2 separate regions of the Homo sapiens genome follow, and region 2 is linked to region 1. Evidence: fine-mapped QTL for protein levels in blood plasma. A gene starts in region 1. The other region holds a variant in brackets. All regions are shown on one strand. Distances are between the middles of the regions.

The links. A credible set is the group of variants that fine-mapping cannot tell apart. PIP is the chance, under the fine-mapping model, that this variant and not a neighbour inherited with it causes the effect. The UK Biobank Pharma Proteomics Project read protein levels with antibody pairs (Olink). The fine-mapping took linkage between variants from a reference panel, not from the people measured, so its PIPs are less certain.
Region 2: its variant is the best candidate, but not a certain one, in a credible set for the plasma level of the MFAP5 protein (UK Biobank, PIP 0.65).

Annotation. Positions count from the first base shown.
Region 1 is chr12:8,658,518-8,667,945 of GRCh38, forward strand. It overlaps MFAP5 (microfibril associated protein 5), which reads right to left and starts at 4,309. Exons shown (of 10, transcript NM_003480.4): 1 at 4,110-4,309; 2 at 3,530-3,589; 3 at 2,346-2,381. The coding sequence starts at 3,587.
Region 2 is chr12:8,837,391-8,846,818 of GRCh38, forward strand. It overlaps A2ML1 (alpha-2-macroglobulin like 1), which reads left to right. Exons shown (of 36, transcript NM_144670.6): 8 at 50-176; 9 at 946-1,060; 10 at 1,723-1,832; 11 at 3,979-4,146; 12 at 5,744-5,971; 13 at 8,052-8,112; 14 at 8,687-8,832. Among named protein-coding and RNA genes, the nearest start is that of A2ML1-AS1, 11 kb to the left of the region's middle. The variant C/T (reference allele first, on the strand shown) is at 5,225.

The DNA of each region.
Region 1 (9,428 bases):
CCACTAACCTGAATCATTCCAGAGACTGCAGGAGAGGAGTGGAGCCTCTCCCGGGTGTAGCCCAATCCTTCCTGGTTCCCTTTCTCTAGAGGCCTAGCTACATTCCAGTCCAGCCACTCACAGAAACAGGAGCAAAGCAATGGGGGAACAGAGGGCTTGAGAATGTATCCTAGCTGTCTCTGGGATTTCAGGGCAGAGTACTGCTTTTCTGCATATACCTCAGTTTAACCAACTGTTCCAAGAGCTATCACCATATAAATGCTTTATCTAGTATTCATGAAGTTCTCTCTGAAAAAAAAAATTAACGTATTTTCTTTTCCTTTTCTTTTTTTGAGAGAGTCTCACTCTGTTGCCCAGGCTGCAGTACAGTGGTGCCATCATAGCTCCTTTGCAGCTTCGAACTCCTGGGCTCAAGCGATCCTTTCACCTCAGCCTTCTGAGTAGCTAGGACAACCAGCAAACCACCACACCTGGCTTTTTTTTTTTTTTTTTTAAGAGATAGGGTCTCAGGCTGGCAGCAGTGGCTCACACCTGTAATCCCAGCACTTTGGGAGGCCGAGGCCTGCAGATCATCTGAGGTCAGGAGTTTGCGACCAGCCTGACTAACACGGTGAAACCCTGTCTCTACTAAATACAAAAAATTAGCCAGTTGTGGTGGCGCATGCCTATAATCCAAGCTACTTAGGAGGCTGAGACAGGAGAATCACTTGTACTTGGGAGATGGAGGTTGCAGTGAGCCGAGATCGCGCAATTGTACTACAGCCTGGGTAACAAGAGCGAAACTCTGTCTCGAAAAAAAAAAAAAATAAAAGGGTCTCACTATATTGCCCAGGCTGATCTCAAACTCATGGCCTCAAGTGATCATCCCACCTCAACCTCCCAAAGTGCTTGGTATTACAGGCATGAGCCACCACACCAGGCAAGACAGTTCATCATACCTTATGATATGTCTGCGAGAAAAGCATCTAAAGTCTTAACACAGGACTGGTTCCTAATCAGCCCAGAAAAATGAATTCCGATTTTCAGTTTTGCTGGTACTAAAATCTCGGGAGGCCTTTCCCCTAGTCTGAAGTCTAGTCACATTCCTGCCCTTTTTTCCTAGATTCAGATTTAGATTCAGAAACTCGGGGATTCGGGTATTTTTACCAACAACAGAAAAAAAATTTTTGTATTTTTATCTTCTGTACCAGGACCCACTGCAAGAAAAATATACTGTACCCTGGTATATACATATGGAAAACTAAGAGAAGTTTTATTAAAGTTGTATGAAATAATACTTTACTCTTGCAAAACACATGCAATGCATCCCGGTATATTTGTTTTGGTCTATCTTAATTCATTTTAAAAATTAATACCAGTTGTGACCCACTAAATTGATTTCATGATCCCATTAATAGGTTGCCTACTGGAGCGCTCTGTCCTCTAACTCTCCTGGGATGGGAGAAATAAAGAGATAAATTATAATTATGTTGAATGCCTTGAGGCAGAATGGAGTTTTCTTCATGAAGTCGAAGGAAGTGGTCCTCTAGGGGTCACAACTTTTGGGATTTTTGTTATAGAGAATGGTGTGAGCAAAAATTACCTAAAAAGCTGAAAAACCAAAAAATACCTTTTGGGTTTTGCTCAGTTGTGCCACAATTTCACCTAGGATTGACATGACTTCTTTTTTTCTAATTTTTTTTTTTTTTTTTTAGTCAGTTCCACTCTGTTGCCCAGGCTGGAGTGCAATGGCATGATCATGGCTCACTGCAACCGCAGCCTCCTGGGTTCAAGCCATTCTCATGCCTCAGCCTCCTGAGTAGCTAGGACCACAGGCATGCGCCACCATGCCAGGCTAATTTTTTTTTTTTCTAGAGATGAGGTCTCCCTGTGCTGCCCAGTTTGGTCTCAAACTCCTGGGCTCAAGCGATCCTCCTGCCTCAGCCTCCCAAAGTGCTGGGATTATGGGTATAAGATGACTTCTTATCCTGTCTTTCATTTTTCCACTGTTACATGAATTAAGGAACGCTTTTTGTAAGGACTAGTAAGCATTTTCTGAGTAAGATAGGAGATGTGTAAAGAAAAATGAAAACAGAAATGGTCATAGAGGATGTCTTGGGAAGGTGTTTCAGTAGTTTAAAAACACACACACAAGAAGCTTTTATGAATGGGATAATAGGATTGTGGAAACTGGTGAAGTTGATCCTATTTCTCACACTTTGGCAATGCATCTCTTTGTTGTAGGAAATATTCTTTTTTTTTTTTTTTTGGCAGCGATAGATAAGCAGGAAGGATTTTTTAACTCTGTTCATCTAAATTTTCCTGATAAGAACCCCAACAGAGCCGCTATCCAAGGGTTCACCTACCTCCTCGTTGACTATTGACCCCCAGGGGTATCCAGTCTATAGCAAAGGAAGAGAAAAGAGATGTGAGTGACTGCAGCTCTATACCTCGTAACCCTTTTATGAGACAAATCAGAAAATCATGGAGAAATGGTTATACTTTATCTTTGTGACTTATTCCTATATAGCTCAATATAAAATTACTGAGACCATTAGTGCTATGAACAAAACCAATAGGAATAGAAAGACTTCAGAAAGACAAGTTCCTTCACTGCTGTGCATTTGTTTGGTAAAAAGAAAAAAAAGACAAGTTCCTGAGAACAAAGCCCTGCTGCCCTCTTACCCTCATTCCTGGCCAGGAATGAAGTCCAGCTCCACTGAGAGGCCTGGCAGCCCTTCTAGCCCCACGGCTTCCCCGCTAGCTATGCTAGTGAACAAGACAGAAGAATTATTTTTCTCAATCTGTATCGGAAGAAGGAGGGAAAAAAATAGAGTAGGACATCTTTACAGCCTAAAGTTCACTTTCTGTGGCCAGTCTTCTAGCCAGATTCTGGGAAATCTGTGAAGATCACTTTTCTCTTGTGTGTCAGTATGGCATATATTTTTTGCATGCATGTGAGTATACCTGCATGCATGATGGTAATAGTGTATGTATTCCCACTGTTCTTCTTCAAGATTTACATTTGGTCCAGTTTCTTTTTTTCTTTTTTCCTTTTTTTTTTTAATGGAGATGAGGTTAACTCATCTCACTATGTTGCCCAGGTTGGTCTCAGTGATCCTCTCCACTCAGTCTCCCAAAGTGCTAGGAGTATAGGTGTGAGCCCACCATGCCCAGCCCAGGTCCAGTTTCTTTCTAGGTAGTCCCTCCTCTATGTTTGTGTATGCATTTGTATATCAGCTTCTTTTTTGCTTTGCAATTTGTTTACTCATATGTGACCCTCTTTGGGTGGTTAATATGCATTTGTGTGTATCTTAGTTGCACCTTAGTTTCATAATTCTTGGGAGGCCTTTCCCCTAGTCTGAAGTCTAGTCACATTCCTGAACTTTTTTTCTTAACACAAAATCTGTTCTTCTAATAGGAATTCCAGAGCTCAATACCAAGCATCTCTACTGCTATTCCTCTTCGACCTCATTCCATCCCATCTCCTGCCACACACGTGTATAGCTGAGGAGCTGAGGGTTTAGGGAGCAAAGAATAAAGGACTCACCAGAGGTGATGATGAATGCAGCAAGAAACAGCAGCACCTTGGGTCCCAAGAGCGACATATCTATAGGGGTGGTGGGCATAGCAGAGAATGTGATGCTCAGAGGCACATCAGCATTTCAGTGCCAGGGAAAGATGCCTCTGAGGTCCCTGTCTCTTTGTCTTCCCAGAACTTTCTTCATTTTCCCTTATGACTCAAACCCTTTCTCTCTTTTCTTACCTTTCACCCAACATTCATTTCTCCCTCAAATCTATTCCTTGGTCACTTACCATTATTCTTGCTTTTATTATTCTCTGCTACCAAGTCAGAGGAAATTTTACATTCTACATGGTCCGTACTTGGCCCTACCCTTTGGCCTCTTTCACCCCTGATGTGGAATCTTCCTTTCTCATATGCGTGACTTTTTCATATCATCTGCTCATCTTGGCGTCTCCTTCATCAGAATTCCACGGTTATTTGGGAGGTCTGCTCAAGACTAAGTTCAGTGACATTCCCCATTGCCCCCTCCAGCCCTTTCACACACACACAGACATACACACATTCCCTCTGTCTCTTTAGGGTTTCAGGTAATCAAATAACTCACTGTCTATGGTGTTCTGCTCTTTCCACCGAGTCCTTTGGCTGCTGAATGTGTCTCTCTCCTCTTACGCTGTTCCTACTTTGGCTGGCGAATAAGATGAACAGAGCCACTCCCTGGAAAGGACTTCAGATTTGGCCTCCGCTGAAACAATGAGATGAGGGAGAGCAAGAAAGCCAGGCTAGGCGTAGAATGTGTGTTACAATGAGGCTGGAATGAGAAGGGAGATGGGAATTTGCAGTTGCTCACACCCTCATTCCAAATGTTATGACTACACTGGTGAGAGCTCTTGCTGCTCCCTGGAAGTGTTGGCCCCAGCTCATGTATTGCCTTTCTTCCATTAGCCTATTTTCCCTCCTCTCACGATCTGGTCCCAGCTCCCCTTTGTTCCTTGGGTTCTTTCTTACCGAAAAGTTCCGTCTCCTCCTTGGTGTGTTTTAATGCACATTATAGATGCTGTTTCTCTCTCTCTGGCTATCTTCTTCTTCTTTGTTTTTTGTTTTTTTTTTTTAAGACAGAGTTTTGCTCCTGTCACCCAGGCTGGAGTGCAATGATGTGATCTTGGCTCACTGCAACCTCCGCCTCCTGAGTTCAAGCAATTATCCTGCCTCAGCCTCCTTATATTCCATATTTGAATCATTCCTTCATCCTTCTTTCTCACTTTCTTTTTCAATATTCGTCTCTTCAGCACTAACAAATTTCTTTTTATTCCTGTATTTCTTTTTCATCTCTGCCTCTTTCTTGACCTACACATTTAGACTCTTCTTGTTTTTTTTCCCCTTGGAATATCCTATGTATTCTCACAACCAAGCGAACACAGATACCTTATGAGTTTTGTCCAAGAGGAAGGCTGGCTACCTTAGGGTTATAAAAAGTTGAGGAACTTTTCAGAACTCTCCAAATCATTTTCAAATGTAGAGAAGCTCTGTGAAAGGGGTGCCAGCCTTACTTTGTCTTTTGGCTTTGTTTGAGCTTAACTAAGAATCTGGGTTTCTGGGCTCTTAAGGATAAAATGCAATCAGATGCCCAAAGAAAATTGAAAGGCAAGGTTATTATGCTTGCCTCATTTTCTACCAATATTTTTCCTTAGATCATATAATGTGTAGATAACACTTTCTCTGATCCAGGATTTTTTCTTTTTTTTAAGATAGGGTCTTGCTCTGTCACCCAGGCTGGAGTACAGTGGCATGATCACAGTTCACTGCAGGCTTGACCTGGGCTCAAGTGATCCTCCTGCCTCAGCCTCCTAAGTCGCTGGGACTACAGGTGCATGCCACTATGCCAGGCGAATTTAGATGTATTTTTTTGTAGAGACAGGATTTTGCTATGTTGCTCAGCCTTGATTCAGGAATTTTAAAGGCTTTGTATTTCTTCTTATTCACAGAGACTCTAGTGGTTCAACCACTAAAACATTCCCGCTTTGGATTCAAGAGCAAACTTGAATTACAGAAACTCAAGTCTGAGGAATGGTGGACCTTGTATGCCATAGAAATATGTAAGTTTCAGGTTTCCTGTTGGCTCCCCTTTAGTCTACATTATATATCTCCCTGATGAAATAAATTAGAGAAGAGTACAGGTAGACAGAGAGCAGATAGTATTAATAAATTACATACTAGAAGAAAATAAAAGGGGGTATGATGGAAGGAAGGAAAGAAGGAAAGAAGGAAGGAAGGAGTCTAGTTGAGAGGAAAAAAGAGCAGTGGACACAGAAATAAGCAAATCGCACTTTGTAAGCACCTCTGGGACCTCCGAGGGAGCTGTAAGTGCTACATCTCTAAGATACATGGAATCTGGTCAGTCCGCAGAACAAGCTGAGTGCTACGCCCAGCTCTTCCTGATCTTCCTGCCCCAGAACTTGCTCTTCTTCCATCTGCTCCCCAGTGAAGGGGCTGAGACTAGAAAACAGATGTGATTCTAGTCTGAGGAGAGTCAGGGGAAGAAAAGGGTGTTGGGAGAAGAAACAAAAAAGCAGATGCAAAGCAGGACATAGCTAAGGCAGGACATAGAATAGAGAGCCTAGAGCAACAATCAAGTTTTCCATGAAGCTCAGACAGATGGAGACACTGAACTCAGGCCAGTCATTTGGCAGGGAGAGCAATGACCTCAATGTGCTGGCCTGGCTAGAGGCTATAGTTTAGGAGAGCCTCCCCAGGCAGTGGGAGGGGGCGTTCTCCTGGGGTTGTAGGAGGTAGTCTGGAGTTGGGGCAGTGAAAATAGGAACAGAATGTTCAGAGCAGGGCTGAAGAAGAGAACAGGCAGGGAGTAGCATCCTAGAAGGAAAGGAGAGGTAGTGAGACAGGAACTGGCAGAAGAGCAGGACAACCATATATTGTTGGGTTTTAAAGACTTTTGAGAATGCAGTTTGTTTCAAGGTTGGTTAGTTTCTTTTTTTTTTTTTTTTTTTTTTTGTGAGATAGAGTCTCGCTCTGTTGCCCAAGCTGGAGTGTAGTGGCGTGAACTTGGCTCACTGAAACCTTCGTCTTCTGGGTTCAAGTGATTTTCCTGCCCTAGTAACTGGGATTACAGGCATCCGCCACCAGGCCCGGCTAATTTTTGTATTTTTAGTAGAGAGGGGGTTTCGCCATGTTGGCCTGGCTGGTCTCGAACTCCTAACCTCAAGTGATTTGCTCCCCTCAGCCTCCCAAAGTACTGGGATTACAGGTGTGAGACACCACACCTGGCCAAGGTTGGTTAATTTTTTCATGGCAACTATGGCGGGCCCTTTATTCTACTACAGTTCCCCATTTGTTCTCAGAGCCCAGGTTTGGATCCCCAGGCTTAGAGATCCTCAGATTTGCTTTTCTCAGGGTGATTTTGTCAGCCTCTGTTGCATTGTACATTAATTAATCATTTAATGACATCAAGTCAAAATCAGCACCAATGGTCAGAAACGAGCAAATGCCATCCAGAGTTACAAGTCCATAATTTTCTGGGGTTCTTTTTGACTCACTGAGTAGCAATCCATACTTCCATCCCATATAGGCTGGATCTCCTGAGGGTAGACAACACATTCTCCAGCAATAAGAAAGCCCCTCATGGGACTGACTGGCGCGTGTAGAAGTGACTTAATGAAGGCAATCTATGTTTGAGTTACCCAGGAAAATTTTCGTTTTTATAAAATGTCTGTGAAAGATGGGCAAAGGGCAAAGAAAGAGGAGAGAGACAGAGATGCGAGATGTCAAGCTGGTTTTATTCATCTGTTTATTGGCTTGTAAAGAATACACCCATTAGCTGAAGGCCTCTGGGCAAATGTACAGAAACGTTATTACTACAGTCCCATCCAACTAAATTAAACCCAGGAGCTAAACACACACACAAAAAATTTCCCATAAAAGGAAGGAAAAGAAAGGGGGAAGGTTATATGAGGCAGGGAGGGCAGGGAGAGGGAGTGGTGTGTGTAGAGGAATGAAGCAATGAAGTAGTAACAGCCAAACACAAAAGATGGACTTAGATGCCAAAAGACATATGTCCTTAGAAAACTGAAGCTAGGGAACACTTGTTTGTCCATCAAAATCCGGCCTAGATGTCGCCTCCTGCCAGAAACCTTTCCTGGTCTCCTCTGCCTCTAAAGAGTTCATCATTCCCTCTATTAAACCAACTCTTTGTTTATTTGTATAATTATATAATCCACTTTATTAAACTCTTTTACATATCTTTAATCCTTATTAGGCTGAGGGTTTCTTTTCTTAGTTTTTTATTTTTTATAGAAATGGGGTCTCACTATGTTGCCCGGGCTGGTATCGAACTCCTGGGCTCAAGTCATCCCCCTGCCTCGGCCTCTCAAAGTGCTGGAATTATAAGCGTGAGCCACTGCCCCTAGCCTAGGCTGAGTGTTTCTTGATGGAAGAGGCTGTCTTACTCCTCTTTAGGTGACATAATGGTTAGCACATTAAAACTCAAAATTTGCAGCCTGGGCAACATGGCAAGACCTTGTCTCTACAAAAAAAAAAAAAAAAAAAAAAAAAAAAAAAAAAAATTGTTTTTTTTTTGAAACAGAGTCTCGCTCTGTCACCCAGGCCGGAGTGCAGTGGCGCAATCTCAGCTCATTGCAAGCTCTGCCTCCCAGGCTGACGCTATTCTTCTGCCTCAGCCTCTCGAGTAGCTGGGACTACAGGTGCCCACCACCATGCCTGGATAATTTTTGTATTTTTAGTAGAGACGGGGTTTCATCGTGTTAGCCAGGATGGTCTTGATCTCATGACCTCGTGATCTGCCTGCCTCCACCTCCCAAAGTGCTGGGATTACAGATGTGAGCCACCGCGCCCGGCCTTTTTTTTTTTTTTTTTTTTTGAGACAGAGTTTCACTCTGTCACGCAGGCCAGAGTGCAATGGCACAATCTCAGCTCACTGCAACCTCTGCCTCCCGAGTTCAAGCGATTCTCCTGCCTCAGCCTCCCAAGTAGCTGAGATTACAGGCACCTGCCACCACACTCAGCTAATTTTTGTACTTTTTAGCAGAGACAGGGTTTCACCATGTTGGCCAGGCTGGTCTCAAACTCCTGACCTCAGGTGATCCACCGACCTCTGCCTCCTGAAGTGTTGGGATTACAGGCATGAGCCACCACACCTGGCCAAAAAATTGTTTTTAATTAGGCATGGTGGCATATGCCTGTGGTCCCAGCTACTTAGGAGGCTAAGGCAGGAGGATTACTTGAACCCAGGAGGTCTAGGCTGCAGTGAGCTATGACTGTGTCACTACACTCCCTCCTGGGCAACACAGTGAGACCCTGTCTCAAAAAAAAAAATTATCTAAATTTGGTCAACTGGATTGAATTGAGATGAAGACTTGAAATAGTAACTTCCTATTTTTGAAATATTAACATTCAAAGACTTAGTCAAATGCAAGGGGGTAGAGGATAACGTTTTAGGGAAGTAAGCAGTTTGAGAGTATACATGGAGTTCAGCAAATGGAACAAGCAATCAATGTATTGAAGTGATATGGGGGCAATAGAACAAAAAGGAATAGGCTCCCCCAAAGCAGAAAAATTGGGCAACAGCTAGTCTTAAAGGAATTTTAGCAGTAAGACTGTAAAAGTTATTTCACGTAAAACATATATAATTTATATCTACAATAATTAGTGCTTCTGTCTCATCATTTTGCTTTGTGTAAATTTTCTGATGGCACTGGTAGTCGGTCTTACACTGTTACAGTCATACTTTCTTGACCACACAGACGTAAAATGTTTGATCCAGGTTTAAGATTCTGCTCAAGTTCCTGAACCCACAACTAAAAAGATATAAATAACTCTGATAAAACTGGCTATAGACAAACAAAACAGGACAAGTTCTAAAAATTCATTCATCCATCTTCTCATTCTACCTGCC
Region 2 (9,428 bases), 180 kb after region 1:
TCTCAAGTGGAATTTCCCAACTCTGACTCCTTATGCTTTTCTTGGTTAGGTACACCTATGGAAAGCCCATGCTAGGGGCAGTGCAGGTATCTGTGTGTCAGAAGGCAAATACTTACTGGTATCGAGAGGTGGAACGGGAACAGCTTCCTGACAAATGCAGGAACCTCTCTGGACAGGTGAGTAAATGACAGGTTAAAAAGGAACCTATCGGCCAGGCACGGTGGCTCACGCCTGTCATCCCAGCACTTTGGGAGGCCGAGATGGGCGGATCACGAGGTCAGGAGTTTGAGACCAGCCTGACCAATATGGGGAAACCCCGTCTCTATTAAAAATTCAAAAAATTGGCTGGGCATGGTGGTGTGCACCTGAAATCCCAGCTACTTGGAGGCTGAGACAGGAGAATCACTTGAACCCGGGAGGCGGAGGTTGCAATGAGCCGAGATGGTGCCACTGCACTCCAGCGTGGGTGACAGAGCAACACTCAGTCCCCCTCCCCCACCGAAAAAAAAAAAAAAAAAAGAACGTATCCACATGTCCTAAAGCGTAAGGAAGCAACAATCTAGAAAAGAGCTAAACAGCCCAAAGTAGAAAGCATTTCCCAGAATTATCATCCCAGTTCCAAAGAACAAAGCAGGGATCTTTATCCTAAACAGGGAGTGTTTTAGAGTCTGCCTTGGAACCAAGAAATTGACCTAAACCCCAGTAAGGTACAATTTTCCAGTTTTGAAGGCATTTCTTTTTCCCTTTCCCAAATCTTGGAGCTTCAAAGTCATTTCATGATTATCTATGTGCAAGTGTATACTTCATGTTGTAGGAGAGTTTTTCTATATTAGAAACTGAAGTGTGGAGATGAGAAATTATTTCCTTCTACAGAACATTATAAAATGGATGTAGAGATTAGATTCCTCATCTGCTCTCTATCTCTGTCTCTGATCACCTCACTAGACTGACAAAACAGGATGTTTCTCAGCACCTGTGGACATGGCCACCTTTGACCTCATTGGATATGCGTACAGCCATCAAATCAATATTGTGGCTACTGTTGTGGAGGAAGGGACAGGTAAGTAGGGTGCTCCTTGGCTCATTAAGAAAAGAGAAAGAAAAAGGGCTGGTCCCAGGGACAGATTTACTCCAAGTATACAAGACCTACCCTCTTGAGTGTTTGGATGGTACCTTGTTCCTAGTTCATAGTCAAGGGGAAATACCAGATCCCATCTTGCCATCTATAAGAAATACTACGGGCCGGGCATGGTGGCTCACGCCTGTAATGCCAGCACTTTGGGAGGCCGAGACGGGCAGATCACGAGGTCAGGAGATCGAGACCATCCTGGCTAACACGGTGAAACCCTGTCTCTACTAAAAATACAAAAAATTAGCCGGGCATGGTGACGGGGGCGCCTGTAGTCCCAGCTACTCGGGGAGGCTGAGGCAGGAGAATGGCGTGAACCCAGGAGGTGGAGCTTGCAGTGAGCCGAGATCGTGCCACTGCACTCCAGCCTGGGCAACAGAGCGAGACTCCATCTTAAAAAAAAAAAAAAAAAAAAAAGAAGAAATACTACATACTTCTCCAAAAGATTGGGGAGGTGAGGTTGGTTTGGATCTTTGGCCAGAAATACATTCAACTTCATCCCTCTGCCACCATTCTCTCAGAGACTTGACATTAAACGTGAAGATGAGAATATCAGGTGCCTAGATCTTTATACATCTGGTTTCCCTCTGCAGGTGTGGAGGCCAATGCCACTCAGAATATCTACATTTCTCCACAAATGGGATCAATGACCTTTGAAGACACCAGCAATTTTTACCATCCAAATTTCCCCTTCAGTGGGAAGGTATGTTAAAACTTTTCTCTGCATAGACAAAAAAATGCATAACCATCTACTTTGCCTCCTTCCTGCAGCCATAGCCACATAGCTAACTTAGTGCTGTTCCAAGTACTTTATGTGTATTCATTTTAATCTTTAGAATAATGCAATGAGGCAGGCACTGTATTGGCCCCATTTTATGGATACTGAGACAGGCAACAGAGGCTAAGTGATTTTTCCAAGGTGATCACAAATAGATGGGAACTATGACCAAATCCAGGAAGCCTGCCTCCCGGGTATACACTCTCCACTCCCTGTACTCTGCTGCCCCAATCCCATAGAAGAAGTGCCTTGAATATTAATGACACCTTAGGGGTCTTTCTAATGCCAGGGGCTGATCTTCTAATGTCTAAATCTTCATATTTAAGAGCTGCAGGGTTTCTAGAGAAATCATCCAGCCTGGTCTCCTGCATCTAGGCAAGGTTAATATGAAACTTTCCTTGACAGCCATGTATAGCTCTGTAAGCAATTTTGTTTTTCTTTCTGTTTTTGTTTTGTTTTGTTTTGTTTTGAGACAGTCTCGCTCTTGTTGCCCAGCCTGAAGTGCAATGGCGCGATCTCTGTTCACCGCAACCTCCACCTCCCAGGTTCAAGCGATTCTCCTGTCTCAGCCTCCTGAGTAGCTGGGATTACAGACATGTGTCCCCATGCCTGGCTAATTTTGTATTTTTAGTAGAGATGGGGTTTCTCCATGTTGGTCAGGCTGGTCTTGAACTCCCGACCTCAGGTGATCCGTCCACCTGGGCCTCCCAAAGTGCTGGGATTACAGGAGTGAGCCACTGTGCCTGACTAGCAATTTTCTTTAGAGATTTTAAAATTTCCGGCAGGGCGTGGTGGCTCACGTCTGCAGTCCTAGCACTTTGGGAGGCTGAGGTGGGCAGATCACTTGAGGCCAAGAGTTCGAGACCAGCCTGGCCAACATGGCGAAAACTTGTCTCTGCTAAAAATACAAAAATTAGCCAGGCATGGTGGCGCATGCCTATAATCCCAGCTACTCGGGAGTCTGAGGCACGAGAATGGCTTGAACACAGGAGGCAGGGGGTGCAGTGAGCTAAGATCATGCCACTGCACTCCAGCCTGGGCGATAGAGCGAGACTGTCTCAAAAAAAAAAAAAAAAGATAAATACATAATTAAATTTTCTTTGCTAGTGTTTTCTTTCTGATATCTAACTGAATTTCTCTCTTGTTCAGCTTATCTTTCTTTACTTCTTGTACAGCTGGTCCACACAATAATATTGCACACATAGAGATGCATTTATTCCTCAGTTATCATTTCTCTAGACCAAGGGTGGGTGCAAATTATTTTTAGAGCCTAAGGATTACACAGTTTGGGAGGGTAGGGGATTCGCTTTAAGAAAAAGAAAGCAAAATAGGCTGGGCACAATGGCTCATGCCTGTAATCTCAGCACTTTGGGAGGCTGAGGCGGGCGAATCACGAGGTCAGGAGTTCGAAACCAGCCTGACCAACATGGTGAAAACCCGTCCCTGCTAAAAATACAAAAATTAGCCAGGTATGGTGGCACGGGCCTATAGTCCCACTACTTGGGAGGCTGAGGCAGGAGAATCGCTTGAACCCAGGAGGTAGAGGTTGCAGTGAGCTGAGCTCGTCCCACTGCACTCCAGCCTGGGCGACAGACTGAGACTCCATCTCAAAAAAAAAAAGAAAGAAAGGAAGGAAGAAAGGAAGGAAAGAAGGAAGGAAGGAAGGAAAGAAGGAAGGAAAGAAGGAAGGAAGGAAGGAAGGAAGGAAGGAAGGACGGAAGGAAGGAAGGAAGGAAGGAAAGAAAAAAGAAAGCAAAACAACGTGCAGAACCTTTGAAGGAGCCTGTGCATATGAAGAGCCCTGAAGCTTCATTAGCCACCGGGCAAATCTAGCTCTGCTCTGGGCTGTTACTTCTGTTTGTTTTTCGGTTCCTCACAGATCCTAGTTCAAAAGCTTGAATCACATTTATCTTTTTCAGGACTCTTTCCTGAAATGTATTCTTAGAAATTCTGTTATTACTTTTAGTGCCAAAAACCACAATTAGTTTGCACCAACCTAATATTTCACTTTACCTCATACTCAAGCTTACTCCAAACCTAATTCTAATCCGTAATGATCTTTGTCCTTCAGATAAGAGTTAGGGGCCATGATGACTCCTTCCTCAAGAACCATCTAGTGTTTCTGGTGATTTATGGCACAAATGGAACCTTCAACCAGACCCTGGTTACTGATAACAATGGCCTAGCTCCCTTTACCTTGGAGACATCCGGTTGGAATGGGACAGACGTTTCTCTGGAGGTAAGCATGGACGGAGGACCAGCTTCCTAGAAAGGAAGGCTTCCCTGAAGGAAAACTTCAGAATTTTCCTGTTTCCTATTCTCCCCTCTGCTTGGAATTACATCTTTCTCACTCACAAGTCCTGCTCTCCCGTTGACAAAAAGTTTTCCTTAGATGCTTTCTGTTTTTAATATCAATCAAATAAATAGTCCTTACTTGGATGAAAACTACTATTTCTACTAATACATCTTTTAACTTACCCCCATCTCTATCTGATCCTATCTATATATGAAGTTAGAGCAGGGAGGAATAGGTGACTCAGAGTCTTTTTCTTTCTCTTTCCCCTTCCCATCCCCTCATTACTTAATAAAAACAGCAAACAAGAGAACTCTAGATTCTAGATAACTTATAAGTATCAATTATCAACTGCCACAACAATGCTTCTTATCAAACAGCTACAAACTTCAGTATCGTGCAGCAGAAAGCATTCACTGCTTGTGCATCTGGGGCATTCAGTCAGGCAGCTCTGCTGATTTCGATTTCCAGAACTGTCTGCAGATCGGCTGGCCATAAGCTGCTGCTCCGCATGCCTCTCATGCAGGAGCCAGCTAGCCCAGGTATATTCTTATGGCAGTGATGAGGTGCAAGTGCAAAAGCTGATGTTCAGGGCTTTTCCAAACCTCTGTATATTGCATATGTTTTTTTCTTTTTTTTTTTTTTGAGACAGAGTCTCACTCTGTCACCCAGGCTGGAGTGCAGTGGCGTGATCTCGGCTCACTGCAAGCTCCGCCTCCCCGGTTCACGCCATTCTCCTGCCTCAGCCTCCCCGAGTAGCTGGGACTACAGGCGCCTGCCACCACGCCCGGCTAATTTTTTGTATTTTTTAGTAGAGATGGGGTTTCACTGTGTTAGCCAGGATGGTCTCGATCTCCTGACCTCGTGATCCGCCCGCCTTGGCCTCCCAAAGTGCTGGGATTACAGGCGTGAGCCACCGCGCCCGGCCCCTGTTGCATATGTTAACACCCCTTTCCCAACAAATCGAACAGTGGGCACAGACTAGGAGGGTACTGGAAGACCACATGCTCAAGGATGCTGATCT[C/T]GGAGGGGGCGGGGTGCGTGTGAGGAATTGGAGCCATTAATGAGATCGTTCAACCTCAGGACTTAAGCAAACACATACTACTTGCCTTGTGGCTAATTTGACTATTTCTTTACTCTAGGCATGACTCAGTTACTCAGAAATAATTATTTTTCAATCTTAGTGTCTTCTGTGCCTAGTTTTCTTATCCCTGAAATATAATCTTTGATTTCTATATAATCTAAGTCACGTTCATCTATCCCAGGAATATCTGTGAAGATACATCACCCACAATTTCCTCTCATTTAGTAACTATAATTCAGCCCTTCTGTCGCTCTCCTACATACCAAAATATTGCTGTACACAGCTACGTTTATGGATTCTTTATCCATCCTTGGCTGGACCGCTAATGAAATACCCACATGCCATTCTCAGGCAGTGAAGATTTGAGAGAAAGAGCTCTATTTGAAAACCGTAACAAGTCCGTGGGGTTTCCATGGTTGGAGCACATGCTAAAATTCTCTCTCTCTCTTTTATTCTCAGGGAAAGTTTCAAATGGAAGACTTAGTATATAATCCGGAACAAGTGCCACGTTACTACCAAAATGCCTACCTGCACCTGCGACCCTTCTACAGCACAACCCGCAGCTTCCTTGGCATCCACCGGCTAAACGGCCCCTTGAAATGTGGCCAGCCCCAGGAAGTGCTGGTGGATTATTACATCGACCCGGCCGATGCAAGCCCTGACCAAGAGATCAGCTTCTCCTACTATGTGAGACCGGGAAACGGGGACGGGTGAGAGTATGCTGGGAAGGAAAGAGAATGAGAAGAGTCAGCCAGAGGGTGCACCTAGGCTATCTGAATTGCAGATGCACATCTAATTAAAAACAATTTTAAAGCCACACTAAAAAAGTAAAAGAACAGTTGACATTAATTTTAAATGTATTTTTTATTTAACCCATTATATCCAAAATATTAACATTTTAACACGAAAGCCATATAAAAAGTTTTAATAGATATTTTACATTCTTGTTTCAACGGTGTCTTTGAAACTCAGTATGTATTTTACACTTAAAGCGTATCTCAGTTTGGACTGAGCACATTTCAAGTATTCAATATTCCTTTTTTTTTCTTTTTTTTTTTTTTTGAGACACAGTCTCGCTCAGTTGCCCAGGCTGGAGTGCAGTGGTGTGTTCTTGGCTCACTGCAAGCTCCACCTCCCAGGTTCACGCCATTCTCCTGTCTCAGCCTCCCAAGTAGCTGGGACTACAGGCGCCCGCCACCACGCCCAGCTAATTTTTTTTGTATTTTTAGTAGAGACGGGGTTTCACCATGTTAACTAGGATGGTCTCGATCTCCTGACCTCGTGATCCACCTGCCTCAGTCTCCCAGAGTGCTGGGATTACAGGCATGAGCCACCGCGCCCGGCCTCAAGTATTCAATATTCCTATGTGGCTATGAGATACTGCATGGCCCAGTATAGGTGTAAGAGATGGAAAACATTGGGGGAAGAAAGAGATTCTGAGCAGGAACACAGGAAAATTGTGTGGGAAAATAAAATGAGGAATTACCTGAGAAAATAGTGCTGGCCAGGACCAAAAAAAACAAAAACAAAAACAAAACCAGCTGGGTGGTTGGGAGGGAGAGTGGGGAGGGATGGGACTCAGGATACTTTTTTTTTTTTTTTAATTTATATGAGACAGGGTTTCGCCATGTTGGCCAGGCTGGTCTTGAACTCCTGACCTCAGGTGATCTGCCCACCTTGGCCTCCCAAAGTGCTGGGACTGCAGGCATGAGCCACCGAGCCCAGCCAGGATACATTTCATTCTGTGTTCCATTGGTCAATATTATCAAATAGATGATATGGGGTTAAATTCACATCGATAGCAGCCTCATTGGGGAAATAAAATCATAACTTGGTAGCCTGAAAGCAATGTATAAGGATAAGCAGCTTTCCTGTCACCTTGGTGACAGTCAGGAAGTAGAATGGAAACCTCAGGTTTGATGGCTCGGAGCCTCTTTGTTCCGTTATCCTCCTGTCAGTCTATGAGAGACTTTCTCCCCTCTGGATCATTGCAGTAGCTTCCATGGTTTCAGTGTTGTCGTTAAGTGAAAAAAAAAAAATCATCCTAATACAACGAAAAGAGAAAAGATAGGTGGAAAATAACAAGTCCAGTGATAAAGCGGGCTCTGTCTTCAGGACCGAAGTGTGGGGAGGTGTAGGACAAAAGTGAAGTTAGGGCCGAGCCACGTGGAATGGCTAATGCTGGGCAGGCGTCCAAGGAACCGACCTTGGAGCCCTGCAGGAGCGTGGGATGAGAGCCTGCTTGCAAACAAGATCACCGAGTTCTGTTTCAAGTGAGAGTGGACGGGAAGGGGGAGTTAGAAGAGGAGATTTCTCCTCTAGAGGGTTCAATGTCAGAAGGGCTCAGGGTGGTTTAGGATGAAATTATTTCCACTGAATTTTAAATTGAGCTGTAATTAAAAAACACTTATGAGGATAGATTTTCGCTGACTTTCTGTTACAAAGATTATAAGAAAATAAAATTTGGAGATCTTCAAGAAATGGCAGACAGTTATCTATGGTGAGGAACAATTTCTATGCTGTCAGACTCCTCCCATCCACCTGCGTGGTTCTCAGCCAGACCTCCAACTGCAGGAGGAGCCACCAGGACCCGTTGGCAGCATCCTGCATTTGTCAAGCTAGTGGATGCTGGGTGAGGTATTGACCCGGACTCTGAACTGTGAAAGGAACCTCTCCTCATGAAGGGATGCAGAGATGCTCTGGAAGTTGGTCCAAGGTGAAATTACTGTAACTTCTGTGCAGTTGATTCTTTTCTTTTCTTCTTTAGTTAATAGGGAAAGGAAGTTTGGTGATGGAGGGGCAGAAACACCTGAACTCTAAGAAGAAAGGTGAGTGTACATGCTTTTCCCGGAAGCAAACAGGATATTTTTAAATTCCAGAAAACAATTCTTGGCCAGGCGCGGTGGCTCATGCCTGTAATCCCAGCACTTTGGGAGGCCGAGGTGGGCGGATCACGATGTCGGGAGATCGAGACCATCTTGGCTAACATGGTGAAACCCCGTCTCTACTAAAAATACAAAAAAAAATTAGCCGGACGTCGGGGCGGGCCCCTGTAGTCCCAGCTACTCGGGAGGCTGAGGCAGGAGAATGGCGTGAACCCGGGAGGCGGAGCTTGCAGTGAGCCGAGATCATGCCACTGCGCTCCAGCCTGGGCGACAGAGCGAGACTCCGTCTCAAAAAAAAAAAAAAATAAATAAAATAAAATAAAATAAAATAAAAAAATTCTTATCCACAGAAGTAATGGAATTGGAGCACTAACAGTTATCACAGGAGAAGAGAAAAATGAGAAGTAACTTGCACCATGGTGCCTGCACTGGCTCAGTGAAAAGTACATATGGTTAGATGCCGTTGGCAGGTGAATGTGCATTCTGATTTTCCTGTATATTCCCTCTTCTCTTTCAGGACTGAAAGCCTCCTTCTCTCTCTCACTGACCTTCACTTCGAGACTGGCCCCTGATCCTTCCCTGGTGATCTATGCCATTTTTCCCAGTGGAGGTGTTGTAGCTGACAAAATTCAGTTCTCAGTCGAGATGTGCTTTGACAATCAGGTAAAATGATAGCGGAGAAGGGTGAAGATAAAAGTTGGGCATAGAGAAAGATCTTGTGTGTGCTGCGGTTGGAAACAAGACAAGTCAGGGAAAGAAGATAGTGTTGACGTTGGATGTTGTATTATATTTATATCTTTAGTGTTTGGGGTTTGTGTTGAAATCCATCTCTCTCCTACTTTTTATTTTAAGAAGTCATGCTGGCTGAGGTGCAGTGGCTCACTCCTGTAATCCCAGTGCTTTGGGAGGCCAAGGCAGAGGGATTTCTTTAGGTCAAGGGTTCAAGACCAGCCTGGACAACATAGCAAGATCCTGTCTGTACAAAAAAATTTTTAATTAGCTGGGTGTGCAGCACTTTGGGAGGCCGAGGTGGGTGGATCACCTGATGCTAGGAGTTCAAGACCAGCCTGGTGAAACCGTGTCTCTACTAAAAATACAAAAATTAGCCAAGCATGGTGGTGGATGCCTGCAATCCCAGCTACTTGGGAGGCTGAGGCAGGAGAATTGCATGAACCCAGGAGACGGAGGTTGCAGTGAGCAAAGAACACACCATTACACTCCAGCCTGAGTGACAGAGTGAGACTCTGTCTCAAAAAAAA